Homo sapiens: one gene and its partner. The protein of the gene in region 1 purifies or fractionates together with the protein of each later gene. This does not show direct contact. Each region holds a gene or a part of one and is shown on either strand. Other genes may lie near its edges.

Region 1 (15,438 bases):
TAGACTCTATTGCCTTTTCAAAGTTCTAGTTTACATAAAAGTATAATCTATGAAAATCAAATTTTTCATATATAGAGGATGAAACTATGTTGTGATCAACTACAGGTTATCTATGTATTTTATTTAAAAACTGGTGGACAGGGAGAAAGATTTTAAACTATGATTAATGAAAGTGATAGATGACATACTTTTCATATAAAACCATGACTTTCTTTCAGGACACTTTAGAAATATGTCCAAAATATACAGAAAAACTCCACAGCATAGTGCTTGAATTTACACAAACATTCCAAGGCAAGTAGGAATCCGAATGAGTAGTTTCACATAAGGCTACTCATTTATTTTTGCAGTCCACATTTAAAACAACTACAAGATTAATTTCATTCCATTTTTCTGGACTTACACATCCCAAAAGCAAGAAAAAAATGTCATTTTGGAAGTATAATAAATGCTACTTGTAAACAAGGCTAGAAAGGGTGGAGAATGAAATGAGATGGGGGGTGGGGAAACAAACCCTTTAGTTACAATATCTTAGGGAAATGAATCTACAATAAGACAAATTTCAAATCAAGTTGCTCCACTATACTGCATAAGCAGTTTAGAATCTTAAGCAGATGCAAAAAGAATAAAGCAAATGGGAGGAAAAAAAAGGCCGATAAAGTTTCTGGCTACAATACAAGAGACATATCATTACCATATGATCTAATGTGGGTGTCAGCCGGATTGTGTTCATTGAGGGAAACCTTATTTTTTAACTGTGCTATGGAGTAGAAGCAGGAGGTTTTCAACCTAGTCACAGAGCAGCACCTACCCCCTCCTCCTTTCCACACCTGCAAACTCTTTTACTTGGGCTGAATATTTAGTGTAATTACATCTCAGCTTTGAGGGCTCCTGTGGCAAATTCCCGGATTAAAAGGTATGGTTTTCAATAATTGTCCTGAACTCTGCTACAGACTAATAAAACTTCGGTCAAGTTGCGAGCAAAAGGGATTATTTGGTGAGAAAAAGAAAAGGAAAAAAAAAACTGTTAAACTTTTATAGTTTTTATGCAACATTTTAAACAAGTATTATTTGAAAACAGAAGTTAAATATTTGATAAAATGATTGAATGCATTGTTTTATTTCTTTCTCTTCTGTTTTTGCAAAGATGCTTCTTAAAAAACTGTAACCTAACACCATGACTCTCTATATTAATGTTTTTGTGTTTGTATTAATGAATGTTTAGCTCTTCAAGAGATGGTAACCGAAAAGTATTCTGAAGTAGCATATCTGTAATTGACCTATATATTTAAAAAATGTATTTTTCTCCTGAATTTTTGATTGCTTTAAGGACTTTTAAAAGCCCAGAAGAACTGAACTCTGGTGATTAGCTGAAAATACCTAATGTATATTTCTTCAACCCCAGAAATGAACAGAAATTATCACCAGAGAAGTGAAAATAAACATTGAAAATATTTATGTTATTAAATGCCTAAGATACTAAAAACGCTGTATAATTTCTTAAATGTAAAGTGTCCCAGTCAGTATCTTCACTGCAAGTGAAATTTTAAGATACATTCACTATAAAATGAGGATGTGGGTTAATTTTCTAATTTTAAAACAGGGTAACACAGTGACCACTGATTAAGTGGGCTCCCAGTGATGTAAATACCTGTGGCTTTTTTTTTTCCTGTTGCTGTTTCTAACCAGAAAAGAGCCAAATGCCTCCTATAGTAACCCTTGTTTGTGGATAAATGCCGCCTTTATTCTTTATTTTAAAATTACATATATTATAATTGAAGTTTTTAATCATCTAGTGCTGTAGGATTTTAATTTTGTTTTGCATTTATAGCTTCACTTATCTCTTGAGGGTTAAATTTTGACTTTGAAAGTGACACCAGAGGCATAGATAACATAATGCAAATGTTGATCTGGATGACATACTTCATTTAATGGGCTTAACTAGTTTTAGGAACCAGAAATTATTATTTTTGGTAAAACATTTGTAAACTATGGCAACTAGCTTCAGTGGAGTAGTGATATTACATTAGTAATTAGCATCTTGGACATTGTCATGCATTTTTAGACTACTTAAAACAGTTTCAGTATAATTTAAACAGCATATCATCTCAATAACAATCTCTTTGGTTACTACTTGGACAGCTGCTCTTTGCTCTTTATATTTCTGATTAATTAAGGAAAGAAGGAAATGACGAAAGGAATTATCAGTATTGACAGCCCACATTAAATGTTTTAAGATGCTGGGTCTTGAAGTACCATGACACTAATTTAAAACAGATGATTTTATGGAAGATTTTGCACAAAGTTTCTGGACATGCAATTATTTTTTCACAGTACAGTCAGGGTTAAATGCACACACACACATACACTCTCTCTCTGTCACACACACATGAACACACACACATACATTCTCTCTCTCTCACACACACACACACACGAGCAAATGAAAATGAAATAAAGGTCGGTGATTGAAGTTATAAGCTGCCTGTCTATATTCAGCTTCAATCAAAAAGAATATTGTTTGGAGAATTTGTACCATTTTAACAGGAGTAAACAAACATAAATTATAATACTATTTCTCTCAGCTAATACTCAACATTTTCTTTTTGTGGGTTGTTAGTGAAACAACCAGGCATGTTCTGCTCTGGAGAAAAGATTTCAAAGTGACATCTGCATTAACTGTCGTTGCTATTTATTAAATCTGCAATGACTTTGCTTCATTTTTCTTTTAAACTTGTAAGACATTAAATATGCAAGGCTAGCAAGCTTGTGGTAAACCATAAACATTGCATTTTTAATGGGAAACAGATACAAAACCACTCCCTCAGATACAATCCAAAGGAACAGGCTGCCAAAACAAAAGTCTTCTCTTAAAGGGATACTCAGTAACTGAATGAGAGTGGGCTGCTAGAAGAAGCTTAATGTTGAACTTAAAGTGGCAGTGTGAATAATAATCTTTATGATATTTTGTTAAATGAAAAGCCACAAGCCTGTATTCAACATGTGCTGCCTTAGACACATATCAGTAGTAAATATAAACTAAGAACAAACATGTAAGAAACTGAAAAACATTTGTTTCTTCTCTAGAGAATCTAGGCAAAAATTCCCAGAAGATACCTTAAGGTTAGATCATACAAAGATCTTTCTTTTCTCTTCTCTTCTTTCTTTCTCTCTCTCTCTCTCTTTCTTTCACTTTCTTCCTTTCTTTCTTTTTCTCTTTCTTTCTTTCCTTTTCTTTCTTCCTTCTTTCTTTCTTTCTTCCTTCCTTCTTTCTTTCTTCTTTTTTTTAATATGCTACAATTGGATAATGACTCAAAACAGCTGTAAGATTCTACTTACGAACGTACAGCTTTAATATGGATTCGTCTAAGTGTACAATTCAAGGTAGAGATGATGGGACTAAATATCTGCTATGATGGGACTAAATATCTACTATGTTTTGGAGATATCAGAATGGTTTCAATGCAATTTAAAAAATATTTCATCTCCCAAATGACTTTGCTGCTATATAATCAAGTACTTTTGTTATTCAGATTTATTACGATTTTGTCACTCAGATTTATTTAGTGCACTTCAGTTGATTTAACAACATAGATTCGTGCTTGTGGAATGAATGGATAAATATGGAATACATTTATCAAAACAATACTTGTTTTTTTACAAAATGCCCTGTTAGCAAAATGAGATCATATATACATCACATAAAAATCAGAATTTTCCATATGTGTTTATTAGCTTATTAAACATAATGTTTGAGAAACTAGGAAATTGATTTATTTTTTAAAGCCGATCTTGCTTATACCAAGTTGAGGTTTTCAATCTGCTTTTTTTATATCAGAAATTCGATACTGAAAAAAAGCTAATTTTGTGTTTTAAAAAATCAGACTGATTGCTTGGAACAAATGGAATAAATCGTCTTGTCAATAAAGTGATGGTCAATTGAGTCATTTGTGTGCAAAATATTGTGCAAGGCCCGGGTACAGAACAAGGAATAATAAGACACGCCCTGAAGGAGTACATCGTCTAGTGAGGGACAGACCAAGCACGCAAAACAAATTGCAATATAATGTGATAAGTTCTTTAAAAGAGGTAAGAGCAACGTGCTTTGGGAGCAGAGAAGAGGGAGAAAGCAGCATCTTGCCTGGATGAGCCAGGGGACACAGAAGAGAAGCCCACTATCTCATTTAATCTTTACAACTCTCTTGCAAGGTCGGTATTCTACATGGCAAGTAGCTTTGATTGTCAGGGTTCAGGTGAGGACTGGGAATGGAGTGACAATGAAAAGGAATGTGGCTAGAGCTATTAATTCATACCAATTTATGAGTGGTCTGACATACAGCACAGGGACTGTGGACAGTATTGATAAGCCATAGGAAGTTAATAAATGGTTTATAGTAGAAATTAATAAGACAAAATTGAATTTTTAGACGATGACTCAGGCAGCAAAATGGAAGATGGACTGAAATAGAGGAAATATGCAAGGCAGAGATGAATTAGAAGCTCTTGTAGTAGTTTAGGGAGAGATGAGAAGGGCCTGGATCAAAATAATTGTGGTAGGATGGAGAGATGTGACTGGCTTCCAGAGATATTTCTGAAGCAGAAATTGGAGATCTCCTATGTGGATAGAGATAATTTTATCTGACCATGTGTTAAGTGAGCATTGAAAAGCCCAACATGATTTATTACCATGACAATTTTGCAAATGATTTGGATATATAGTATATCATCTTAGTTTAGACCCAAAATTCAAACAAGCAGATTTAAATAATACTCAGATTTCTCATCCTAAGTAAATAGCTGTGCAAATGATACTATAATGTACCTGATTGTCTTTCAATACATTTTTAATGCTCTGCTTCCTGATAACAAATGAAATATTATTTTGCATCTTTTCTCTGTGCTCACTGTATTGTGGCATATTATATAAGAAACGACACACAGATTAGGCAGTGCTACTCTTCTTAAATCTCTCATTTGTTTCCTAGGTTCCCTGGTTGTGAAAATACATGAGATAAATCATGAAGGCCACTATCATCCTCCTTCTGCTTGCACAAGTTTCCTGGGCTGGACCGTTTCAACAGAGAGGCTTATTTGACTTTATGCTAGAAGATGAGGCTTCTGGGATAGGCCCAGAAGTTCCTGATGACCGCGACTTCGAGCCCTCCCTAGGCCCAGTGTGCCCCTTCCGCTGTCAATGCCATCTTCGAGTGGTCCAGTGTTCTGATTTGGGTGAGTGGGATGCAGTTTCTCTTTACCTACCTTACTTGTTTTATTCTTGGGAATGGCAACTCTGAGAGTTTAGCATTTTCAGTTTTAATCTCTCTAAATTTGAGAGACAGTGCCACCTAATGAGGAGTAAAGGAAGCAGAACAGGATAGAAAGAAAAGTAGCGTTGTTGTTCTCTCTTTCTCTCTCTCTCTCCCTCTCTGTCCCTCTTCCTTTTTTCCTCCATTACTTTGCAATCTTGGACAAATCATTTTTAAAAATATTTCTGAGCTTTATATCCCTTCTTCTACAAAATAAAATTTTGAATTAAAAAAGTCTTATGTTCTAAAATTTCAGAGTAATGGTTTAATCTTAATTCTATAATATGCTTTTATAAAATATTAGATATTAAGAAAATCAGGTCAGTCTCTCTACTATTCACTTAGCCCAGACAACAGAGTTTCAACATTACTAAATTGTAAAATAATCAGTTATCAAAAGCAAAACACATCAAATTTTATGACAAAATCTTATCTTTCAAGTATCAAAATACTCCCTTAATCTCTGAGTCTTAGTTTTGTCTTTACTTTTGACATTTTGTAATCCAGCTGCTTATATTCTTTAGAAAGTTTCAAAGGAAATATTTATCACTAAGGTATGGTGTAAATATTCAATATAATTGTGTTACATATATCTTTAGCCTAACACCCTAAAGACAGTTTGATTTATCATCTTTTCAGAAAAATTTGGTCTGGAAATTCCAAGAGCATTACACTTAGAAGATAAATCTCCAGAAAGATTGAAGCTCAGTGGATGGGCCAAAGGGGAATGAACTCAGTTTACATGGCAGCTCATTCACATTCCTCCTTTTGAAGGGGTGTATTTTCTTACTGGAGATGAAAAGAAAAAAAAATCTTTATATCATGATTCCGCCATGTGTACTTCCTTCTGGAAGAAATTCCATACTATGATCAGGCACTTCTTTCAGAAGTCCTATATTTACTCAGAACATGCTTTCTAGCAGTAGTTTGCAGAAGAAAAATGCAACTTCTACAATTGGAATAAACTGCCTATAGGAACCCAGAAAAAATATAAAGTATATTCAGTAGTAACGACTGAAAAACACTTGAAATAGCTTCTTCAACACATATATTGTATAGCTATTTAAAACCCAAATACAAATGTTATATGAAGACTTTCAAAAGGCCGCAGGATAATTCCAATGGATCTATTTGTTCAGTCATTCAGAAGCTATATCGGGAACCCATCATGGATGAGCTCTGCTCTAGGCATGGGGAGAAAGGATGAGGAAGACAAATATGGCCCTAGTTCTTGTGGATCTTATGTTCTAGTGGTGGTGACTATTACTTTTTGAATTGTGTATTTGCCACAGGGGAGATTGGATTACTCTTCAGAAATTTTATAAGCATCTAGAGATGACCTGCATTATTGCCTTGGGCAGGAAAATAACAGGGTTGAAAAAAATCTGAACAAAGAAATCACCATTTGATGGATATACACAGGATAATCTTTTCTGAAGTTACTAAAATGGCGAAGTTCCCAAAAAATGTAATGCGAATTAAATTTCACTTTGCCTCTGAGAAAAAGTTAAAAGAATTTATTATTACTCTCGCTACATGTATTATCAAAAATGAAGGGTTGATATTTTTAAGGAAAGAAGAGTTGGCCAGTCACTTTAGTGAAGTTTTATTTTTTCGTAAATATAGTTTGCCTTTGCTTCCATGAAAAAATAGCTCATAAACCTTGACCCTGATGAAAGCACTGGGCCAGTTTTCCAATTCTCTGTTATGTAAAAAGGCATAAGTCAATTGTTCAAAGTGAAACAACAACAACAACAACAAAATGTAGTCTTAGGAAGCAGCAAGTTCACTGACTTGGGATCTTTATGACAGTTTTGTTGTTGCCATTGATATTGTTTTGTTTATTTTTTGTTTTCAGATGAGAAAGTTTTCTACATGTTATCTTTTTTCTAGGAGCTCAAAGTGTACATCATTCCTTTATTATAGCTAGGTTTACTGACTCATATACTAAGGAAGTAGCTAAAATTATAAAAATAATTTGTTTTTAAAACCATATTTAACTAAGGGAACTAAGTAAGTTCCAATGAGCAGTGGTCTCATGCAAGGTATTTTCAATATTTTAAAATTTACAGATGAATATTTAAATATATTATAAAAGTTTTAATCAGCTATCTCTAAGAAAATACATTTCTTAAAGGGAAATGAAATTCACTTGACTTTAAATAAAACAAATGAACTCATTTCATGTTTTTAACTATTATCTAACTCTTCCTTACTTTATGATGCTGGCAAGCTGTTGAGAGCCTTGACATCTCCATCTGCAGAAAAATCACAGTCTTAGAAATCCTATTAATCGTGTGAGGTACCTGGGTCATAGTAGCAGCTTCATGCAGTGTTAAAATTATATGATGATTATATGCAGTAACAGATGAAGAAAAAAAGAAAGAAAGCAGGAGAAATGCACCACCTCATTCATTGTAAATGCAGTATAGTTGATTTTTTAATTTGTTTTATGTCCTCTAGTGATCTAAGCATGAAGCTTGAATTATTATAATAAAGAAAATAAATGCAATGCAGTTGGGGATGGCAAATGTTAATGCTTATCTGTATCAAAGACTAACACTGTCTTCAGGATTATCCTTGGTGGATTATCCTTGGCAGACACTTAATGAGCAGAGAGAAGCTACAATGTTGAAGGACAAAAGTCCTTTGTCATCTTATTATCGAAATAATGTTTAATACAAATAAACTTTTTAAATTAAAATGTTTGACTACTTTTTACCACTAAGAAATATTCTTGGCAAAGTTAAACAACATCAAAATTTTAAACAATTCTTTCAAAGCTAAGAAGTAAAAACCTATGAAATTAAAATTATGTAATTACTCTGCAGGATAATTTGATGCCTCTGGAAAAATGCATGGACTGTTTTAGTCCCTAATTCTAATTTATCACAGTAGTATTAACACGTGCTTTTTTTTTTTTTTAAGAGGATGAGGGATTGAGACAGTAAACATGAATTCCTCATAGATATTGGCCAAGTTGTTTCATTGAACTTGTTGCAACTTACCTTGTAATTGGAACCACAATTTTATGAGACCCATATCTTGTCTTCTTTTATCTATCATGTTAAGAAATAAACCAGTTCCCTCTTAATTATAGCATTTATTTCAAAAAGCAATGTTAAAAATAAATGTAGAGTTAGCAAATTCAGAAGTCTTTCAGTTACTTTATAATAATAAATCCACAATGTAACTCATTCTTCTAAAAATCAAAAAAATTTAAAACGTTCTGATTTTGATGGGATTTTCTATTTTATATGCTTGGCATCCTGAAGAAGACAGCTTCCCTTACTTAGGTACTCTTTGGCTTAGCCATTCATCTTTGGATCAAGTGTCACCAGGTAGTATAATTTGGTATGGACTTAACACCTCATTACTGAAATGCAAATCAGTCCTGACAAGTCAAATAAGAACAAGTATTGTCTTTTGACTAGTCTCCAAAATTAAAATAATAATTCTTGATGTATTTCTTATAAACAAATTTCAGAAGAGTTAAAATGCCTCTTAAAACTATTTAATAGTGGAAAGAACTTGGGCTGTGCAGTTAAACACCTCTGATCTCAAATTCTGCTTTGCTGTTTACTACCTGTAACCTTGAAACTTTCAAAACTTTGTTTCCTCATTTGATAAATGGAAATATATCTTATTTCACTGGGTAAGAATAGAAAAATATATGCACAAATGTTTATTATAGTAACTTACATTTCACTTACCATTTCAGGCAAAGTTGGCTAAGAACATGAGGCTGTTTCTGATATTTCCTTTTATTTTTATGTATTAATGAGAATAATAGGTATAGGCCATATACTTATTAGAGACTCTCAATGACTTATACTTATTATTCTCAATTCATATTATATCATATTATACTCATTGAAAATAAGCCATATACTTATTAGAGACTTATTTAGAGTCTTATTAGAGACTTATTAAGAGTCTCTAATAAGTATATGGGTTGTCAAGCTAGACACAAAATAGTACCATCTCTCTCCACCTCTCTAAAGAGGACCACATCATCTCCAAATGTAAATAGACAAGAACAAAAAAAATTGTGCATTTACTAGGCAATTGAATGTTCTCCAAACCAATATTCCTTTGAACAAAATGAGTTTGTTTGATTTGAGAACAATGAAGTATTTGGCTATTTTATAATCATAAGTGATTCATACCCCCACACACTTAGCCCTCTAGAAATGGTGCCAGAAGATGAAACACATTTAATTTTGCCATATAGAAGCATTGCAAATAACTACTGGTTTCTAATAATGTACCTTATAATGCAAATAATGTTTTAATTTTTAAAAATATCAGAAAAAGTACAACCTTTTAAATTATGTAGTTGCTTCTTCTTCATAATCATTTTTCTTGAACTGGTGAAAAATTTTGTCAGAAGTTACCACTTGGGACATATTGTACTACAGCTTCTCGCTTGGCTGGAGAAACTGGTTTTCCAGAAGCAGACCTTATACAAGAGGTAAATGAACCATTAGACTTCTCCCATGAAATCAACCCAGAAAAATAAATTAGGACTATTTTGTAGAGGAACAGACAGAATGCTAGAGGCTCAGTTGCCTTTATCATTTATGTCTGGCTCTGCAGCAGCAGGGGTGTGAGGTGCTCCTCATTCAGAGTTTCGAATGCACCAAAAGGGTGTTTCCAAAACATGATATGGGAAGGAGGCTGTGCACAGAGTATGACCACTGGATTGCCTAAATTGACATTGGGTAGGAGTGGAGTATGGGTGATCTTCAGATGAAGCAAGAGTAATGCTCAATGTGACCTGGTTAAACAAGTCTCCTGAATCCAGGGGTTAAAGATGGAGAGGAGGAAGAGAGGGAGTCAAGAAGGTCAAAGGGAGCGTCTGTCTCCCTGACCTGAATGACAACTAACATAGCCCTTGTTTCCTTCTTGGTCCCCAGGAGGGAGAGAGAGGCAGCTGTGTGGGATCAAGGCATTTTGTGAGATTGCAGCTGTGATTCATTTTCCTTTGGAAGAACATCCCTAGCTCCAGGGGATATGGTGGGAATTGGTTAGCTAAAATATCAATTCCCTGGGTAAAAGAGGAAAACCATGAGACCCTCTAATCTTAACTTTTCTCCTTCAAAAGAGTGGAAAAAGATTACATAGTTCCTCAAAAATTAAAAAAAAAATGAGTCTGCAATTCAGTCTTAATAAAAAGAGAAAGCCCTTAGCATATATACTGTAACAGTAAAGACTCAGTTACTCTTGACTTAGTCTGTGGACTGCTTTAACTTCTGTAGCTTGCCTACTTCTGCCTTTTTTACTGTAATCTACATTTGCTTTGATTATTCTATAATAATCAATTATATATACATATCTGTGATTATACAATATCTTTTATCTTTTTATATATCTATTTTATTTTTTTTCACTAGAAAAGAAGTATTGCAATAATTTATCTTCGTACAACCTCTACACAACAAACTGCCTTATACTTTGTAGACTCTTTACACATCACTGAACGATTGATGAATGAATACACGAACATATGCATGGCTTGGTTCTTGAATTAATGCTTGGATGAATATTCTACAATATTCTTGACTCTAGCAAGCTGCAAAGAGAAGGGAACATGCCTGATTGAGAAACAAAAGTGATTTCTCAGTGCATCCTTGCTCCTTCCCTTTAAGGACAACTGTAAAACCAGGAAGCTTAGAAATTCCTTGAGTTTGACTGGAAAGAGAATAGAATTAAAGAGAAGAATCATCTATGTATGAAGCCTGGTCTAACTGATAACGCAGTCAGATTGCCATTTTTAAGATGGAAAAAGGGGAACATGCTTGCCTTGAGCAGAAAAGTTTTTGGTGGGGCTGGAGCTCCTAAATATTATTTTGGTCATTTGCCCAAAAACTGAAGTACACCACCAATGTCCCAATTATGAAGTTGAATACAGAATTATAAAAAAAAATTGTTGAAAGTCAATAAGAATAAATCTTAGAATTTGGACTCCTGCCACATGGCAGAAAAAAAGCATGATGTTTTAAGACAACCTGGCCTTTGTCCAACATGATGTTTACCAGATTGCTGACATTTTCTAGCATAACAATACTATTCATCATTGGGATAACCAAAAGAAGGGAAATAAAAAAAAAAAGAAGTCTATTTCTTACTAGTCTTTATTCAGAAATGATTTTTTTGGTAATATCTTAAGTAGTATCTTATTTGCTTTAATAAATAACTTGATTTTAAAGAAGATAAACCTCCTTACAAAAACTGGGAGAGCAAATGTCTAATCCAGGCTACCTTGAAAATAGTGTGTTTTAGTGGAAAATTTAGAATTATGTTAAATAAGGCTGCTCAATGAAAAATAAATGTAGGAAACCACTATGCTCCTGTTACTACAGCTGAGTGAATTTTACCCCAAAACATGGTGGCTTAAAAAAAAATTTAATTTGCTCACAACTTGAGGTATGGAAAATTTGGGAAGGGCTCTGAAGGGCTGTTCTCACTTGGGGTCACTCTTGCATTTGTAGTCAAATGTTACCCGGGATTTATAATCTTAAGAAGGCTAGCCTGGGCTGGACACCTGTTCACTCTCATAACTGACAGTTGCTGCTGCTGTCGCCCACAAGCTTGGCTGTTGTATCCTCTGGATTGCCTCAGACAGCCTCTCTTTTTTCCTATGGCCCCTGGCTGTCCCAGAGCAAGCATCCCAGAATTGGGTAGCAGCTGTACAACCTTTTCTGACCTAGTCTCAAATGTTATGGTGTTTCAGGCTATTGATTCCTAGAGGCATCACAAGGCCATCCTGAATTCAAAGGGAAGAGAGAGGAATTAGATGCTACCTCCTAATGGTATTGGGATAAATGCATATTGTAGAAGAGCATGCAGGATAGAAAATTTAATGTATGCCATCTTTGAAAAATATAATCATCTACATATTTACTTACATTTATATACATTTCTAATGAGAAGTTTGAGCATAATTATGTATTATGTAGAGAAAGCCCACAGATATTACATGTCCCCCATGAAGGTCATTATTTAATGATTACAAACTACATTAAGATGTTAAATAATTATAATTAAATTAATTTACAAATTAACTTCATAGTTACTTAATTCTTCTACTTAAGATTGTGAGAAAAGTATTAAGTCGTACCTTAATGACTTTGTTTTCATTATGGAACATTTTTTGGACATAAATTGAACCTGGCTAATTGATACATATAATTTAAAATGCTAACATTTTACTTTTTATATCATTTTATGAATAACCATAAAATTCATCAGTATCAATAGGAATTATTTAGTTAAAAATCACATACAATTAATACAATCATAGGCTTAAAGGCAGAATTTAAATTTGTTTATTTAAAAGTTAAAAAAATTAAGGTAGGATAACTGTTTCATAGAATACTATCTGTTTTTATATTTTTTGAAGATTAGGTTTAGTTCAAATAAGCTTTTTGCAATTATCAAAAATAATCTCTGGTCCTCGTGTATTTCTACCACAATTTACTTCCGGCTTGGTGTTTTCAGATGAGGAAATGGAGCCTGAGGAATGCTAACTTACAGATTCCGGTCATCTCTCCTTAACAGCCAAGTTGATTTTAACCCGAGCCATTCTGACTCTAATGATGTACAAACAAAGAGTAATATTTTATAGATTTGCAAAAGAGTGTAGCATTTGCTACCATTAAAATAGGGTTAAATTGACCAGGAGCAGTTTTTGAGGAGTCTAATTACTCATTGGGGATCATGTGCTTCCTAAACTGAAGGCTTATCCAAAAGCCCTGAACTTGGTAGACAAGCACCCCAAAGGCCCTGAACTTCATGGGAACAATGATGAATGCAGAAAGACCAGGAAATAACTGTCAAGACAAAAACATTTCAGGACCAAGATCTTTAGATGAACACCTTGTGCTTGACATACCTGAAAAACAGATTTCAGCCTCTAGGATAATATGCATAGTAATTGTACAGAAAAGAAAGAGTTACAGATGAATAATCAGAAAGATTATTCAGAAGGATAATGAGAGCAACACCCTCTATTTTGCTTATTAATAATAATCATAGGTAGCAATACTTGAGACGCTGCTATGCACTATGGTAGGAGATTATTTTGTAGCATAGCTTATTGAATTCTCACAAAAATTCTGTGAAAGACTTAAGAAAACTGAGGACAGAGGGTTTAAACAATATGTCTTCTAATTTTCTTTTTCTTTTTTTTTTTTTTTTAGACAGAGTCTTGCTCTGTCACCCAGGCTGGAGTGCAGTGGCGCGATCTCGGCTCACTGCAAGCTCCGCCTCCCGGGTTCACGCCATTCTCCTGCCTCAGCCTCCTGAGTAGCTGGGACTACAGGCACCCACCACCACGCCCGGCTAATTTTTTGTATTTTTCAGTAGAGACGGGGTTTCACCGTGTTAGCCAGGATGGTCTCGATCTCCTGATCTCGTGATCCACCCGCCTCGGCTTCCCAAAGTGCTGGGATTACAGGCGTGAGTCACCGCGCCCGGCCTCAATATGTCTTCTAATCTTAAAGATAAAGAAGAGGAACCAGAATTGAAATTCACATAACAGTCTTATAAAAAAATGTTATTATAGGAGCATGTTTAAATATGAAAATTCTGCAGAATAAAATGACCCCATTGGGTACCCACCACAGAGCTTCAACCAGTGTCAACTAATGCCGTTATTTTTCTATCTCCACCCACTTCCATATCATTTTGAAGCAAATTCCAGATATATGATTTTATCTAACAATACACTTACCAGTATGTTTCTCTGAAAAATAAAGCTCTCAAATAAAATAGCCATAGTTTATAGCTTATTTATATGAGTCAGGATCCAGATGAAGTACATACATTGCTTTTTTTAAAAATAGCTTCTGTTTTTTGGTTTTTTTTTTTTTTTTTTTTTTTGACAGGATCTCCCCCTGTTGCCTAGGCTGGAGTGCAGTGGCATGATCACAGCTCACTGTAGCCTCAACCTCCCCAGGCTCAGGGGATCCTCCTTCCCGAGTAGATGGGACTACAGGCTTGTGCCACCATGCTCAGCTAATTTTTTGTAAAGATGGGGTCTTGCTATGTTGCCCAGGCTGGTCTTGAACTCAGAGGCTCAAGCAATCCACCTGTCTGAGATTCCAAAAGTTCTGGAATTAGAGGCAAGAGCCACAGCACCCAGCTAAAACATCTCTTAACTCTCCTTTACACTACAGATTCACAATTTCTTCATTTTCTTTTGGAATTTAGAGGATTAATCAGATTCAGGATTAATTGTTTGTTTTTGAAAATACAAATCTATGAATGGGGATTTGTTTCTTCATTTAGAAGCTTCTAACTGATGCTTTTCCAGGAGAAATATATGCCATGTAGAGAAACTCTTACTGCTGGAGTAGTCACTCTATTAGACAGAAAAATCAGTCTTCTTGAGATATGTATGTGACAAAAGGTGCTTCACAAATATGGCAAAGACACTGAAGAAAGTAAGAGCAATTTTCAGGTGCAGATAATGGGAATGACATATTTGATAGTAAGTAGCATTCATTTATAAAATATTCCTGGAAACAGGAAAAAATATAATTATTATAACCAGTTGTATCCTAATACTTCTGAGGAAAATAAAAACTCCTATGATAGCAGGTTATAGGGAGATGGTTATAACAGAACATGGCAGAAATGATCTCAAAGCCATACTCATAAACTTTTCATCATGGGACAGCAAGGCAGATAGACTTTAAAATTAATTAATCAGAAAGGCACTTCTTGTTTTCAAAGCAGCCAGAGCAAAATGCTGATGAGAAACAGTAATTAGTCCTCCTTACTCAGGAAAAAAATAAATAAACTAACAAAACAAACAAAGACCCTGAAATGCAGGACAGTATAGTTTAAACTTATACATCTATGGCCTGTAAGAAGTTTAGAGGTGCAAGATTACTGTTATACAGGGGTGGTCAGCATGAATATTACAGAGGAGAGGGATAACGGATATGCTTCAAGGGATTGTTAGAATGGAAATAGAAATAAATGAATAAGTGGAGTTTTACATAAAATATGCATTGCATGAACAAAAATTGAGTAGCTAGGAATGAGTGTAATATGCTCACGGAATAGCTGTAGATCAGCATTAGAAAATATGCACAATGATCACATGCATAAATGGCACACC
Region 2 (15,438 bases), on another chromosome or scaffold:
GTTCTTACCCTCTCTGGGCTGAAGATGGGGAATAGTTTTGTTCTTTTTTTATGTTGTCAGAAGAAAGAGGTGGATGGTTTCCCTTCTTTGCGCCAAGATTGAACAAGGGCACCATTACAGATTAGCATCAGTCTGTAGGGGACTGTGGGAAGAAAGTTTGAGAAGCATTACCTAGAGATATAGGAATCTGATTTCAGGATACTATTATCAGTGAATGATCTCTTCCTAATGCCTTAAATGAAGACGGACTGTTCCTCTACCAACCTTAATGAGATCCTCCTATCTTATAAATCTGAATTCATTTCCTTATTTCTTGAGCTAAGTAAACCATGTTTATCTTGAAACAGTTCAGAGCAGTCCTCACTTTCTTAGATAGAATTCAACTTGGCAAACATTTATACAGAAGGCTTTTCCATGTAAAATCCAAATAATCAACCTGTAAGTGAACTTTTGGAGCACCAAGTCATTTCAGATCGTGAATTTCCTGTAGGAGACTAGGGAACCATGTGGCTCTGAAAATGAGTGTAGTTTTTTATGTCAGGTTCAAGATCTTGAAGCGCTCAAACAATATTCCAGGGATTTCCAGGGATGGCTGTGGCTGTCAATAGCGGATTGATTCCAGGGATAGATGTGGCTGTCAATAGCGGATTGTGCGTGACTGTTTCCATTGCACCGGCAGCTTCACGTTCCCCTGTCTGTTAACTAAGCTGCTCTTTATTAACAGTAGATTCCAAATACAGGGCCCTAGTCTCTGCAGAGTTCATTGTCTCAGAAGGAAACGAGCGATGGTATTGGTTGATGAGGGCTGTCAGGGTGCGTGAACTAATCACTGTGGGGGAGCAGAAGAAAGAGGCTTACACCCAGTGGGTGATGGATCAAGAAATGTCTCACCCACACTCCCACCCTTTTTTTACCCACTAGCTGAGTCTTGGAAGATGAAGAGGTGTTTTTGAGGCAGAGACAACTACAGGTTTCCTACAACATGAAATGGCAGGAGTTAGTGAAGGAGCGATGGGAAAGGCCAGCTCTTTGGGGCTAGGTGTAGGCTGTGGGTGGTAGAGTGGTGGGCAGGGACATGGAGGGAAGGTCTGCGTGCCAGGCTTTGTGTGGTTGCTGTCCAGAGCTATTGGTGACATTTCGGCAGGACAGTAGCCTGATGGGATGTGTGTTTTGGAAGATCAGCCCAGCGGTGTTGCTGCTGCAGAGGGTGGCTAGAGTTGGTCAAGTACCGGTACCTAGCTAGAGCTGGACAGGACCGGTACCTGTTGAGGGACGCTTGGGTAGCATTTATCAAGAAGTCTAAAATGCAGCTCTCTTGAGGTCTGGCAATTGCTCTAGAATTTTTTCCAAAGGAATTTTAAAGGTGTGCTTAAATGTGTACATATGAAGTGGAAATTTCAGGTATTTTAGGTGTCCTGCTTTAGGAGATAAGGACCAAAATTGACTTAACTGATTCATCCATACTGTGGTCTGCATCTCTAACAAGTAAAAATGGTGTGGCTGAAATACTTTTATTGACATGAGGAGAGGTTCAGAATATACTTAAGTGAAAGTAAACTGTAAAACAGTATGGCCAGTACAAAGCCCTTCTGTGTTTAAAGTAAAACAAAAGTGTATGTTTGTGTAGCATAGAAAAGGAAACATCAAAGGATGTACTCACTGTGATGCCAAGTGATCTTTTATATTCTTCTTAGCTCTTTTCTATATATTCTGGTTTTTCTACAGTAAGCAGTTATTTTGTAATAAAGCTACAGTAAAACCACAAAAAGATGTCAGCTCTAAGAGAAACTGCATTCCATTTTGAGCACGTTAGGCTGCTGGTGTGGAGGTCCGCTAGGCACAGAGCTGCAGCCCGTTCTCGTTTCAGTCAGTTACCATTAATTCTGTCCTGAAGTGACAGAATTAGCTTAGCACACATTTACTTGGTTAGTGTCACAACCGTTTTCCTCAGTTACTGTAACTTCACGCTTCCAGGTGACATTGGGGAGGATCTGGTGGCAGCATTTTCAGTGCAGGGGCCTCAGCTTTTGTATCTTAATGTAAATACTCAGTGCTTCCACCTGTTGTTGAGGCCTTTTTGGCTTCTGGTTCCGGATGGCATTGGGTGAACAAGAAAACCTAGCTACAGTTTACAAGCATAAAAGCTGTCCATCTTCTCACCTGAATTCAGTGTCATCTCTGAAGCATTTATAGCTGCAGCATTTTTTCTGTAGACAAATACATTTTCTGGATGATTACAAATAAGGTCCAGTCTGCTCTGATGTGGTGTCAAGTTGATGCCTGTAAACCAAAAGCCTGAGGATTATTGACTGTAGGTGTTGAGGCCATTGAAATTGTGGTTTTCTAGGTGGACCATAGGCGCAAAGACTGTTACACTTTGCTCGGCGTGTTTGGTAACTGATGGCAGTGTCTGCAGGTAATTGGGCACAATTTAGAGGCGCACACGGATCCAGACACAGAATGTGGCCTCAGAAGCTAACACTGGAATCAAGTTGTCTGGCCTTCAGTTAAATCCAGCCCAAGCACTGCAAAGTTGTCCTTGACCGGCAGGTTTTGTCCAGGTTTTCAAGTCGCCAAGCCATGCATGCTGGGAGTGGGTCTGAAAGTGGTTGAAGTGTGTGTAAGGCTGGTCTCCTTATCCACGATGACTGTTTGTTCAGCCTTAGCAGTGTCCGTGAGCCTGGAAAAGTGATGTGGGTGACCACCTGGGAGGCGCGTGTGTGGGATGGAAAGCCAGTGTGGAGGCTGTGGGGCCAGGGTGGCTGGTGACTGTGTTTAGGTGGGCTTTATAGAGGACGGTGCCTCAGTTCAGGGAGACGGTGATTTGCAAAGTGGTCGGCCAGAACAAGTTCAGGGTGGTTTAATTGTTTGCATTAAACGATACTGATTTTTGGTTCATGTGGATCATTAAGTATTAGTCGCATATTTATACTTTTAAGGATACAGCAGCGATATGCAAATTATGAAAGGAGCTCTCCAACACTTTCAAGCTTTGGAAATGTCTCATGAGATCAGAATTCGTCTTCTGTCATTTACACTCCAAATTTTAATTGTGATGTTTCAAAAGTGGCCTATTTGTGGTCTCTGTTCCCATTGTTTGCCGTGAACCTGGGCTCAAAGGGCGGGCTCCTCGTAGCTCTTAATACCTTGGAATGCCGTCTGGGCTTGTGCCCAGGCCATTGTTGAAGTGGGAGGCTGTAATCCCCCCTGCCAACAGCTTAATTAAGAAAAAAAAGGGCTCTTTACTGCTTGCTTTCCCCTCAAGTCTATTTTTTAGGATGGACAGTAAGGAGTATAATTTGGTTTTTCTTTTAAAATAATTTTCCCACCATTCACAGCCTCTGTTACATTTTCCCACCTCCTTTCAAAAAGGGTTTGAGATTGGACAGGTCATAAGGACGTGCACGATGAGACAGTTAAAGGTTTTGAAAGAGGAAACCACATACCCGGAAACCACATGCACAGAAGTGGGAAACTGCAGCTGAATGCATTTGCTGCAGAGCTTTTGGGACCAAGGCAGAAGATGGAGATGAGGGATTGAACAGTGTTTGCAACATCCTGCCAGAGGGGATTCCTTCCGGCCGAGGAGAGGCCCGTGGCATCACTTGGTGGCCTTGAAAGACCCCTCCCTTTTCTGAAGGCTGTGGCTCTGGCTGGCAGCATAGAGTGGTGCCCTCCGTGTACTCTCTTGGAGGATGAACTTGGACTGCTGCTCCATCACACTGTACTTCCTGTAAGGATACCTCCATCATTGACCTTGGGAGAAGTTTCCCTCAGGCCTTAGTATGTTTTTACACTTAACCCTGAACAGTAGGACACAGTCTCGTGACTTCTCATGGCTGCCTGCTGAAAAGTTTGTAGCTGAATTTGGGCCCACCACTAGCACATCCGTAGGTCACGTGATGGCAGGTAGGTCTCAGCACAAGAGCACTTTGCAGTTGAAGTGGTGGCTCCTGAGAGTGCTCTCACTGAGTCAGGGTTTGCCCTGGGCAGGGCAGCCTCCACCAGGATTTGCCTTTCGTTCCTTGCGTAAGGGTTTCCTACTCTTACTTTTCTTTGGTCTCATTTTCTTGCTGATTTTTCTCATCCTGTATGATTTTGGTTAAGTTGTCTTAAATCCCTTCTGTAACAGGGGAGAATGTAAATACAGCTGGCCCTGCTATCTGCTACATCTGTGGATTCCACCATCCATGGATTGAAAATATTTGGGGGGAAAAACAATAGAAAATAACAATAATAAAAACAATACAAGTAAATACAATATAGTATAACGACTATTTACATAGCATTTACATTGTATTAGGTATTATGAGTAATCTAGAGACTATTTAAAGTATACAGGAGGGTATGTGAAGGTTTAAGCAAATACTGCACCATTTTATATCAGGGACTAAAGCGTCTGTGGATTTTGGGGTCCTGGGATCATTCCCTCTTGGATGATAAGGAACAGCTGTATATACCCTTAATTCCTATTATCCATCAGTTCTACAGAGAGAAAAACCCATATCCTCCCTTCTTTAACTTCCAAGATGATTTTATCATGAGTCCTTTTAAACTGACTGCCGTGTAGCCATCAGACAGCACATGTAATAGTGATTTTGGGGAACTCACAGAAAATCTCCCCACCTTTTTAATGGTAACTAGTAGAATAACTATTAAAGCTTAAAAATCACAATTGAAACGACTCAATCTTACTCCATTTTTCTTTCAGTTTTTCTTGTTGGATAAAAAAATTTTATTACAAAAGTAAAAATTCTCTGTTGTTACATGTTTTGATTTCTTTGGTTGCTTGTTAGCCTCAAAGCTTTTGCCCAGTTAAAACTTTTTTTCCAGCTCTAAATATACCTGTTGCAGAAAACTTAGAAAATTTAGAAAACACAAGGAAGACTATTGGCCGGGCGCAATGGCTTCCGCCGGTAATCCCAGCCCTTTGGGAGGCCGAGGTGGGCGGATCACAAGGTCAGGAGTTCGAGACCAGCCTGACCAACATGGTGAAACCCTGTCTCAACTATAAGTACAAAAATTAGCTGGGCGTGGTGGCAGGTGCCTGTAATCCCAGCTACTCGGGAGGCTGAGGCAGGAGAATCGTTTGAACCTGGGAGACGGAGGTTGCAGTGAAATCACGCTGTTGCACTCCAGCCTGGGCGACAGGGCCAGACTCCGTCTCAGAAAACAAAAAAAAAGACTATTAAATCCTTTCTGGTTTTCCCATCCAAAAATAACCACGGTGAATACTTTGGGGGTGGAGTTGTACGTTATTTTATTTTTGTATATGTACTTTTGTTCCCTTGGTAAGCCACATCACAAGTATATACTGTTGCCTGCTTTTTAAGCTTACCCGTATATTATGAATATTTACCTAGGACAAGAGTCATGCTATAGATGCAGTTTTGTACAGAAGTGTATTTTATGTAGTTTTTCTTAAAACAACACTGAATGGAAATGGAGACTATGATATTAACCCATTTATGCCTAGAGTTCCATTATTGGAACGCTAAGCTTGTGGGAGTTATTTATATCCCGCTCAAGGTTATCACCAAAGTCTGATTTTTTTTCCACACAAAAAAATCGCAACCTCTGACATAAATGGGTTAAGTCCTAACCAGCAAAGGCATTCCTTAGCTAAGCTAATACTGGTCCAGCTGAATTACTTAACTGTGATTTGACTCAGTGTAGGAATAGCGTTTAGAAACCTAGAGTGATGGAGGATTCACTTGGCACTCTCAAGTTTCAGCTGTCTTATCTGGGCTTGAGCAAGGGTTGGACATCAGTTCATTGAAAATGAGCTTTTTCTGGCAAGGCCTCTGCAAACGTTTTGTCATTTCAATTAAGTGAGAGTTCTTTGCTCCCGGTAACAAATGTGTTGATGGCAAAGCTGACGTTTGCTTATGAAAATGAAGGAACTGGACTTGTTGATATTGCAGAAGAGGGGACAGCTTGCTTCTTTGGGAGCATTCCCTTCAATTATTTGAAATTATTAATGCATCCCCTCCTCCTCCTCAGGATGGTGGTGAATCACGATTTATGTTCCTGAACTCGTTCACTTTGTGGAGCTCTTCAAGTTAAAGGACCCTAATTGAAAAGATTATAATTTCTTAAGATTGGAGGGTTTACAAAGACTTGACATTGAGAGATTTCCCTCAAACCAACCACCAGTCATTTAGAACAGAAAAGGACAACATGAGGTTTTTCCCTGAGTTACCTAAAAAGGAACAGATAATAATTGGGTGGAGTTACCATAAAACTGTAGGGTTGAGGTTAGACTGTTTTTAAAATTAATTGGTTTCTCTTCTTGGGCAAATTACACCATTTCAGTCATAGTTGAGACATTAATTGCGTCTGTGCTGGTTGTACTGCTGGGGCCTCTTTCACTGTGTTCTTCCTGGTGGGGTACACGGGAAGCAGGGCCAAACTATAATGAAGCTTCATCCTCAGTCTAGTAGGGAAGTTTCTCGTGCTCTACCGCGAAATGCTCGTGAAATTTGCAGTTAGGCCTCTTTCCTGTAACATTGTCTGAAGTTGATAGTAAAAGAGGATTTCAGTACATAGCTTGAGGCTCAGGTTTTAAGAAGCATTTTCCACATTACCTTTGCTCCGTGTGCTCCTGAGACTGACTAGTCCACGTGGAGCCCACACTTTCCTGTTCTTTCACTACCTTATTTGATTTGCAAACTCTTGTCTTCCTTAATAATAAGTCATACTTACATAGTGCCAGGCAGGCTTCTAAGCTGTTTACAGAGAGCTCATTTAACCCTCACAACAACCCCCGTTTACAGATAAGGAAACTGAGGCACAGAGTAACTTGTCCCAAGTGGAGCTGGAGTTCTCGCCCCCATGGCCTGATTCCAGAGCCAGCTCTTGCGGTGATGCTGTAGATTCGCCTCCTTAGTTGGTTGTTCTTTGAAGGCAGGAATTGTCTCGCCCACCCCATCTCCCAAATAACATTACAGTGTTTTAGTATTTTCATGGCTTCCTAGGTTGAAAATTTCTCAAAGTACAAGATAGAAATGATTTCTGACCTTTTGCAAACACGTGTGGCACCATTAAGTTACTTATTGTACATGAGTGGGCAGTATTCAGTGCACACATTTAGTGACCTCTATTATGTGCCAAGCACTGAAATTATTTACATTTTCAAAGAATTGTTGCGACTGCCAAATGAAAAACATTTCTCTATAAAGAGAGCATTATCAGGGGCTCCTCGACTTGAATGGGGGGTCATTGCACTATAATTTTGTCCTTACTAACTTCCCAAGGCTGGAGGAGTTCTGAGAAGTTATCTCCCCTCCATATGTCACCGCATCAGAAGACTCTGTATAGCTTGTCACACATTCACACATTGTCGCATTTGCAAAAGGACTTGTCCCTTTGTAGGTGGGATTGGTTTTTCTTTAAATTAATTTCCACATCTCTACGTTTATTCTACATCCTTTTTCTTCAGGAGCATATCCTTTGTGAAAATGAAGTGCAGTACCTAGAACAGTATCTGTTAATAACCGTGGAATGAATGTCTGGGCTGAATTTGTTTTTTGTTGTTATTCTTGTTCTTTGTTAATGAGTTATTTAAGTGGCGTAAGAATACAGGTCCATTTTAAATCCATAGGCACTAAGGGAAAACATTAACAACACCATCTTATATCCATTCTGTGATTTTGACATCTCAGAAATTAGGATGCATTTTATAGTTACCGGCGTCATGGGATTATGATTGGCAGTATTTTTTAAATTTGTTGATAGATAAAACAATGGTGCATCTTCCAGTTAACATCCTAAATGTGATGAAAAAATGTATATATTTAATCCTTGCACTTTTTGAGAGGCGTGTTGGCAGAAAGTCGAATTCCATTGAATTTTGCCTCTACTTGAAAGAGATACATTCGAAGTTGTTTTGTATTCCTCATATTTGGGTTTGGAAGAGAAATAAAAGCCAGTCATTTGTTTTCCAAGTGCTTCATTGTAAGTTCTTTTTAAAATTACAAAAGTAAATATTTAGAATCTCAGTTTTGCAAGATGAAAAAAGTTCTGGAAATGGATGGTGCCGATGGTTTCACAACACTGAATGCTGCTGAACTTTACATTTAGAAATGGTTAAGATGGTAAGTTTTATGTTATGTATATTTTATCACAATTTTTTTTAAAAAAAACAATATGATACTTATGCAGTTGTCCTTCAATATAGAGATGCATAGAATAAAAAGTGAAAGTCACCTTTGTCCACACACATTCCAGCTCCTCCCAATTTTCCTCCTTGTGTACCTCTTCCGCAGAGATTTGGTGTGTATCTTTTCAGATATTTCTCTCCTAAGACTTTCCCTTAAAGATGTGTGGGGGTTTCATTGATCCTTCAAGTAATTTTTCACTATAATAAATACACTTGTAACAGGTAAAATAAAAAATATTTGAAAGAACATCATTTGATAACTGCTTTTTTTATTTTAAGATTAAATTTACTATTTTATTTATTCTCCACGATACATTTTTCTTGGAAGTAGTCTGTATGAATGAATTATTATAGCCAAACAACTTTAGATCTGAATACAGAACGTGAAGAAAGTAGGAGGGAAAGTGCGATATGATAGCCTTCAATTAGCTGCTCAGCAGAAGCAGCCTTTACGTGGTTTCCTCGCAGTTGACCACTCATCTTCCCTCTGTCGATGGGCAACCGTTGTCTCTTACACCCTTTACGTGGTTTCCTCGCAGTTGACCACTCATCTTCCCTCTGTCGACGGGCAACCGTTGTCTCTTAAACCCTTTATGTGGTTTCCTCGCAATTGACCACTCATCTTCCCTCTGTTGATGGGCAACCGTTGTCTCTTAAACCCGGGTCTGGGCTGCTGCAGTAGTTTACTCAGTGGTCTTCCTGTGTCCACTCTGGCTTCCTTCGGCCTTCTTCTCCATTCCTAGGGAGTTCAAAATGTGTGGGCCTTAATCTTGTCTTCTGCCGCATTCCCTCTAGAGGCTTCCTGTGGCTCTTGCAACATAGAGGCCTGCATCTCTAGTGTACTCTGCCAGGCCTTGCACATTTGCCTCTGTTTTTTTTTTTTTTTTTTTTTTTTTTAGATGGAGTCTTGCTCTTTTGTCCAGGCTGGAGTGCAGTGGTGCGATCTCGGCTCATTGCAACCTCTGCCTCCCGGGTTCAAGCAATTCTTCTGCCTCAGCCTCCTGAGTAGCTGGGATTACAGGCACACGCCACCATGCCTGGCTAAATTTTGTATTTTTTTTTTTAGTAGAGATGGGGTTTCACCATGTTGGCCAGGCTGGTCTTGAACTCCTGACCTTGTGATCTGCCTGCCTCGGCCTCCTAAAGTGCTGGGATTACAGGCATGAGCCACTGCCCCCGGCCACATTTGCCTCTATATTAGTCTGTTCTCACACTGCTGATAAAGACATACCAAAATAGGTAATTTATAAAGAAACAGAGGGGTTTTTAAAATTATTTTATTTATTTATTTTTTTGAGACAGAGTCTTGCTCTGTCTCCCAGGCTGGAGTGCAGTGGCACGATCTCGGCTCGCTGCAAGCTTCGCCTTCCGGGTTCATGCCATTCTCCCGCCTTAGCCTCGCTAGTAGCTGGGACTACAGGCGCCCGCCAGCACGCACGGCTAATTTTGTTTTTGTATTTTTAGTAGAGACGGGGTTTCACCGTGTTAGACAGGATGGTCTCAATCTCCTGACCTCATGATCCGCCCGCCTCGGCCTCCCAAAGTACAGGGATTACAGGCTTGAGCCACCATGCCCGGCCCAGAAACAGAGGTTTAATGGACTCACAGTTCCACATAGCTGGGGAGGCCTCACAATCATGGTGGAAAGTGAAAGGCACGTCTTACTTGGTGGCAGACAAGAGAGAATGAGAGCCAAGCAAAAAGGGAAACCCCTTGTAAAACTATGAGATCTCATGAGACTCACTCCTGACCATGAGAACAGTGTGGGGGAAGCTGCCCCCGTGATCCACTTACCTTCCCCTGGGTCCCTCCCGCAACATGTGGGAACTGTGGGAGCTATCATTCAAGATGAGATTTGGGTGGGGACACAGCCAAACCGTATCAGCCTTCTTCCTCGCCTCATGACAGCGCTCTCGTGCCCTGCATTCCTTGATGTTTACCCTGTTTCAGGGGAAGGCTCCCTGTTCTGTTGGTTCAGCTCATGTCCTGTGCTCTGCCCTTTGGGAGTACTTCTCTTAGTTCATAATAATATATACATTAGTCTCATTATTCTGGTAAGTGTCTGTCTCTCCTGATGTCCTCTCTGTGAGTTGGGGATCACGTTTTTGTTCACCACCACATCCCTTTAGCTTAGCACATACTTGGCACTTGGTTCAAAGAAAATTTTTTGAGTGAACCATTTGATTTTGTTTTTTGTTTTATAGAGTTGAGAAGTTCTTAGGTAGGGAGTTGATAGTATCACAAAATTAATCTGTATACCCAGACCTTGGTCCCCTGGCAGTTTGGTTTTCAGCCATAACTAAAACTTAGTTATCCCAGAACAGTTTTAACACTTCTTCATTTTTTGTTGGGGTTCTTTTGAAAGTTAATTTAGACTTTGCAATACGCGGTAACCTGGGCTTTCGTTAAGAGGAACCAAGCAGGCCAAGTAGCTTTTTATCATTCCATTGAACACGGCGATACAAGATGAGCAGATAACGTGAATTCCTGAAAATCAGCTTGGAATAAACTGTTCTCTAACTGATATTTATTTTAATTCCAGAACATGGTCCAAGACAATTCCTGGGAAAGTTCAGTTCTTCTCAAGTGAGGGTTCTGACACATCTGTACCAATTCCAGTAGTGCCACTACGGGGTGTGGACGACTCCTACCCGCCCCAGAAGAAGTCCTTCATGATGCTCAAGTACATGCACGACCACTACTTGGACAAGTATGAATGGTTTATGAGAGCAGATGATGACGTGTACATCAAAGGAGACCGTCTGGAGAACTTCCTGAGGAGTTTGAACAGCAGCGAGCCCCTCTTTCTTGGGCAGACAGGCCTGGGCACCACGGAAGAAATGGGAAAACTGGCCCTGGAGCCTGGTGAGAACTTCTGCATGGGGGGGCCTGGCGTGATCATGAGCCGGGAGGTGCTTCGGAGAATGGTGCCGCACATTGGCAAGTGTCTCCGGGAGATGTACACCACCCATGAGGACGTGGAGGTGGGAAGGTGTGTCCGGAGGTTTGCAGGGGTGCAGTGTGTCTGGTCTTATGAGGTAAGAACAGAATTCTTTACCATGGGAAAAACTTAATTTTGTCAATTTTGTCATTAGTTCTGAGCGTATCATAGGAAACTAGAGATGATATCCTCTTTGAGGGTTGAAGTTGGTATTATTCTACATTTTTAGCCTTAGATTAAAAAAAAAATTCAGTTCCCCTTTATTACCTTTTCTTGGCTTTGAGCGCATATCTTCTGTACTTTTTCTCCCCCCAGAGAGAGTCTTGCTCTGTCTCCCAGGCTGGAGTGCAGTGGCGCCATCTCGGCTCACTTTAACCTCCGCCTCCTGGGTTCAAGCAATTCTCCTGCCTCAGCCTCCCGAGTAGCTAGGATTATAGGCAGGCGCCACCACGCTAGGCTAATTTCTGTATTCTTAGTAGAGACGAGGTTTCACCATGCTGGCCAGGCTGGTCTCGAACTCTTGACCTTGTGATCTGCCTGCCTCAGCCTCCCAAAATGCTGGGATTACAGGCGTGAGCCACGGCGCCCGGCTCTTCCATACTTTTGTCCTAATACTTAGTTAATAAATAATGGCATTTGGGGCCTAAAGAAAAGATAATGGGTTGCTGATGGTCATGGTGATATTTTCTTGATTATCCAGAAAATCATCTTGTCTGACTTCTGCTGATTCCACAGATGTAATTGCAAGAATGTAGGATATCTCCCTATTTGTTTTTGCAAAGGCCTGGCTCTTCTCTTCTGGTCATAATGACCTACACAGATTAGAAACTTAACGTGTTTTGAATTTATAAAAGGAATCATGGTATAAAAAAGCCAATAGCATTTGACTTCGCATTTGTTGTGTACCTTGACTGTTCAGATAGTTACTTTAATCTGTGAGTTTATAATATAGTTGTTGCTTTCAGAATAGTTGTCGTGCAACTTCTGAGTTACCGTGACACATAAATGAAATTTGCCGAAGGAAGTCCGCTTGTAGATGTTTTCTCTGTAGCAGTTGTAGAGAAGATGGACTGGCTTTGGACTTTCCTGTGTTGTTGCTGCACCCTTTGCCTGCAGATTGCACAATCTGATACCAGTTAATGGTGAAAAAAATTATTGAGGTTGTATTGTCTTTAGGTTGATAAACTCCTGGCAGTTGTGAGGAGCAGAGGTAATTGCTAGATCTTTTGCCCAAGAAAAAGAATACACTTTCTAATATGAACTGTTAGCTTTTTTCTGAACTAATGTTCTAAAGCACGTACTTGAGTGAAAGAGCAGTATTCTTGCCTGTACTTGTCCACCCCTAGACTTGCTTTTAAATGTCTGCTAATCACTCTTACTTTTTTTGTTGTTTGAACTTTAGGGAAGTGGACATTTTCAAGCATACAGGGAGTGGCCATGTAATTTTTAATTACAAAGTCACAAAGATACATTTTAAATCCTAAATGTGATCTTGAGTGAACTCTTCAATCCCTGTGTGCCTTATACTATCCCCCCAACCCCAGCACATAGGGGACAGCTCACTGGGCCTACGGGATCTCTCTGTCGTCACGGATTTTTGCAGCGAGGAAAGCTGTTTGAGGGTTTCACGCTGTTTTAAGCAGAATACAGCTGGCAATATTTCTGCATTTTTCCCCATCCTAAGAAAGTAGTTATAACCTTGACACATTTCATTATGGTTAAAATAGGTAACACATTGTATATTTTGGAACACTTTCCCCTGACCATCATCTCCGAGAAGCCAACCTTCTTGCCGGAATCATAGAGGACAGACCTTCTTTCGGGAGAGAATTTTTAAAAGTATGTCTTAGTTAGGTCGTGCTGTTATATACTGCTGGACAGACACCAACAGAGCCAGTCTCTTGAGTTTGATCAAGAACTTGGGTTTAGCGTTAGTGCCAAGAGGTAGTTAGAAAGTGTCATCCTGGGGCTGCAGGGTGGGAGGCCATTTTGGAGATGATTTTCCTCTGACGGGAGGTAATCACAAAAGGTTTCTGATGGCCTGCGAAGGGGTGCATGGAATGATCCTGTCTGGACACTTGGAGCCCCCTCTGAGGCTTGGTGCATCCTGTCAGTGGCCTCATCAGCTGAAGGGACCTGGTTGGTGAGGAGGCCTCCTCCCCGTGTGGTCCCGTCTCCCTGCCTTGGGAGGTGGGTCAGGGACAGCAGCAGCAAGGCTCTCCTTGGGAGTGTGGTTATTGGGCCTGCTGCTGCTCTGCGTTTCTTTAAATGCCCTGTGGTGTCAGAGCTTTGACTGACTGCTGCAGGCTTCTCCTGGGCTTGTGCCACAGGGCCCTCCCACCTGCAGTGCCCAGAGCTCTCTTTTTCTCTTCTGTGAGCTGCCTTGCCTGTTCGTAGTCTTGGCCCGTATTTCTGCTGAAATGTTGTCTTACAGTTTTGTTGAAGTGCTTTATTCTGGATAGAGTATCTTTTCTCAGACTGTGACTTAACTTTTCACCTTAATTGTGGGATTTTTATTGTACGCAAATTGTGAATCTAAGTGCAATCTAATGCATCATTCTTTTCCATTACGGTTTGTGCTTTTGTGTTTAAGAAATTCTTCCCTTCCTTAGGTCACGAATATGTTTTCTCCTGTATGTTTTCTTACATGTTTGAAGTGTTCCCTTTCACGTGTAGTTCTTCATTATAATGTTAAGAATTCATCTATTGGAACACTTGCCATCTTATTAGACCTTTGATTTCTATTTTTTTATTTTTCTTTTTATAAAGCTTTAAGTGCTTCTAACCTAAGTTGTTATTAGGTTTATCATTGTGTTCACCACTCAGGTAAGATTAATCCTTCGTGTGGATGAGGAACTTTTATTAAACTTCCTGTAAATCTAGTTTCCCCATTAAGGTTCACATTATGGGAAATTATTGAGGTGGAGTCTTATGTTAAAGACAATTACGTTAAGCTTTGGGACTTGGAAGGTACTTATTTTGCCCTATTATAAGCCTAGCCAGAAGGTATAGTGTTTTTTTTGGCGAGTAGAAATAGTACCTTGGGATGACACTTAGGTAATTAAAATGACTTGTGAGGAACAACTGTCAAAATCAAAGTCTAGATTCATTTCTAAACTTGTTTTGATAATTATTGGTGGTTATTAAAAAATAGCCTTGAGAACTTTGTTTGGAAATAATGTTAAACTCACAGAGAAGTCAGAGGATAGTGAGAGTGTAGGCCTGGAGGCTGGGGAAGAGCTGGGAGGAGCTCAGCTCCTGGCTCCCCTTGCCACATGGTGTCAGCAATATTGACTCAACTCAGGTGAGGTGTTTTTGAGAATTATTATTGAAAATTTTGAAATAGGAATTCATTTTATCAAGGCAAATACATGAAAAGCTATACTACTCTTAAGAGGGAACAAAAAGAAAATTGACTTAAGTAACCTATTCATTTTGTCTTTGACTTTTGCTTCGACGTGTACTGTACGTATGGAAAAGTGCATAGGTCGCAAGGGTCAAGCCCAGTGGATTTTCACAGACTGCACGCAGGCAACCAGTAGATCTTTCTTCTATTATTTTCTCATATTTGACTAGGGGTGAAGCTGTAGACAGTAATGATTATTGATGAAATTTGGAGATAGGCAAAGGTGGATTTGACAGCTTTAAAATATTAATTGTTTTTAATAGCCAATACTGTCACGTGGCTCAAAATTCAGAAGTGCAAAGGGCTTATAGGAATACGTCTTCCTTCCTCTGCCTCCGGCCCCTGGGCTTCCGCTGTGAATTAGCCATCATGGTGCCTCAGGTTTCCTGCGTATCATATCATATACAAACAATTAAGTTTCTACTTCTCTCCCCGTTTACATGAATGGTAGCGTAATACCTACCATCTATGTCTTGGAAGATTTCCCATTTGGTAAATAAAAGAACTTCGTCTTTTTGATGGACGTTCGGGCTATTTCCAGTTCTTTCGGCAGTGTTTCTAGGCGGTCATTTAGCCCAAGGCTCCCCAATCTTTTTCACATCTTGACATTGACTCAATTCACTCACGCTGAGGAGCCTGCCTCCAAGGGCTGCTGTTACCCCAATCCCTAGCTCCTGTCCCCTCCACCACCCCTACAGCCCCATACCACTCTAGGCCTGGAAGGATTGTTATCTGGGCACACATGGAACTTGTTCATGTTACACCCGCACACCAAAATACACCAGTTATGAAGCTCTGAGTTAGCCAGTAAGTACTTGTTAAGGGTTCATTAATGAGCCCAGAACTGCCCTCTGAATTGGTAGGGAAATTGCAAAAGATTGAAACATGAATGGCCACCTTTTTCTCCCTCAAGGACTTCAGAGTAGTTGA

What was found.
Region 2: the proteins of DCN (region 1) and CHSY1 purify together in Homo sapiens (affinity purification with mass spectrometry; 4 studies listed by BioGRID and IntAct, with this or other methods). This does not show direct contact.

The regions. Positions count from the first base shown.
Region 1 is NC_000012.12:91,168,133-91,183,570, reverse strand, and holds the start of DCN (decorin isoform a preproprotein), read left to right. Parts: upstream 1-753; 5' UTR 754-916; intron 917-4,091; exon of another isoform or gene 4,092-4,209; intron 4,210-4,924; exon of another isoform or gene 4,925-4,985; 5' UTR 4,986-5,018; coding exon 5,019-5,229; intron 5,230-15,438. UniProt on the Homo sapiens protein: May affect the rate of fibrils formation.
Region 2 is NC_000015.10:101,230,843-101,246,280, reverse strand, and holds part of CHSY1 (chondroitin sulfate synthase 1), read left to right. Parts: intron 1-10,703; coding exon 10,704-11,199; intron 11,200-15,438. UniProt on the Homo sapiens protein: Has both beta-1,3-glucuronic acid and beta-1,4-N-acetylgalactosamine transferase activity. Transfers glucuronic acid (GlcUA) from UDP-GlcUA and N-acetylgalactosamine (GalNAc) from UDP-GalNAc to the non-reducing end of the elongating chondroitin polymer.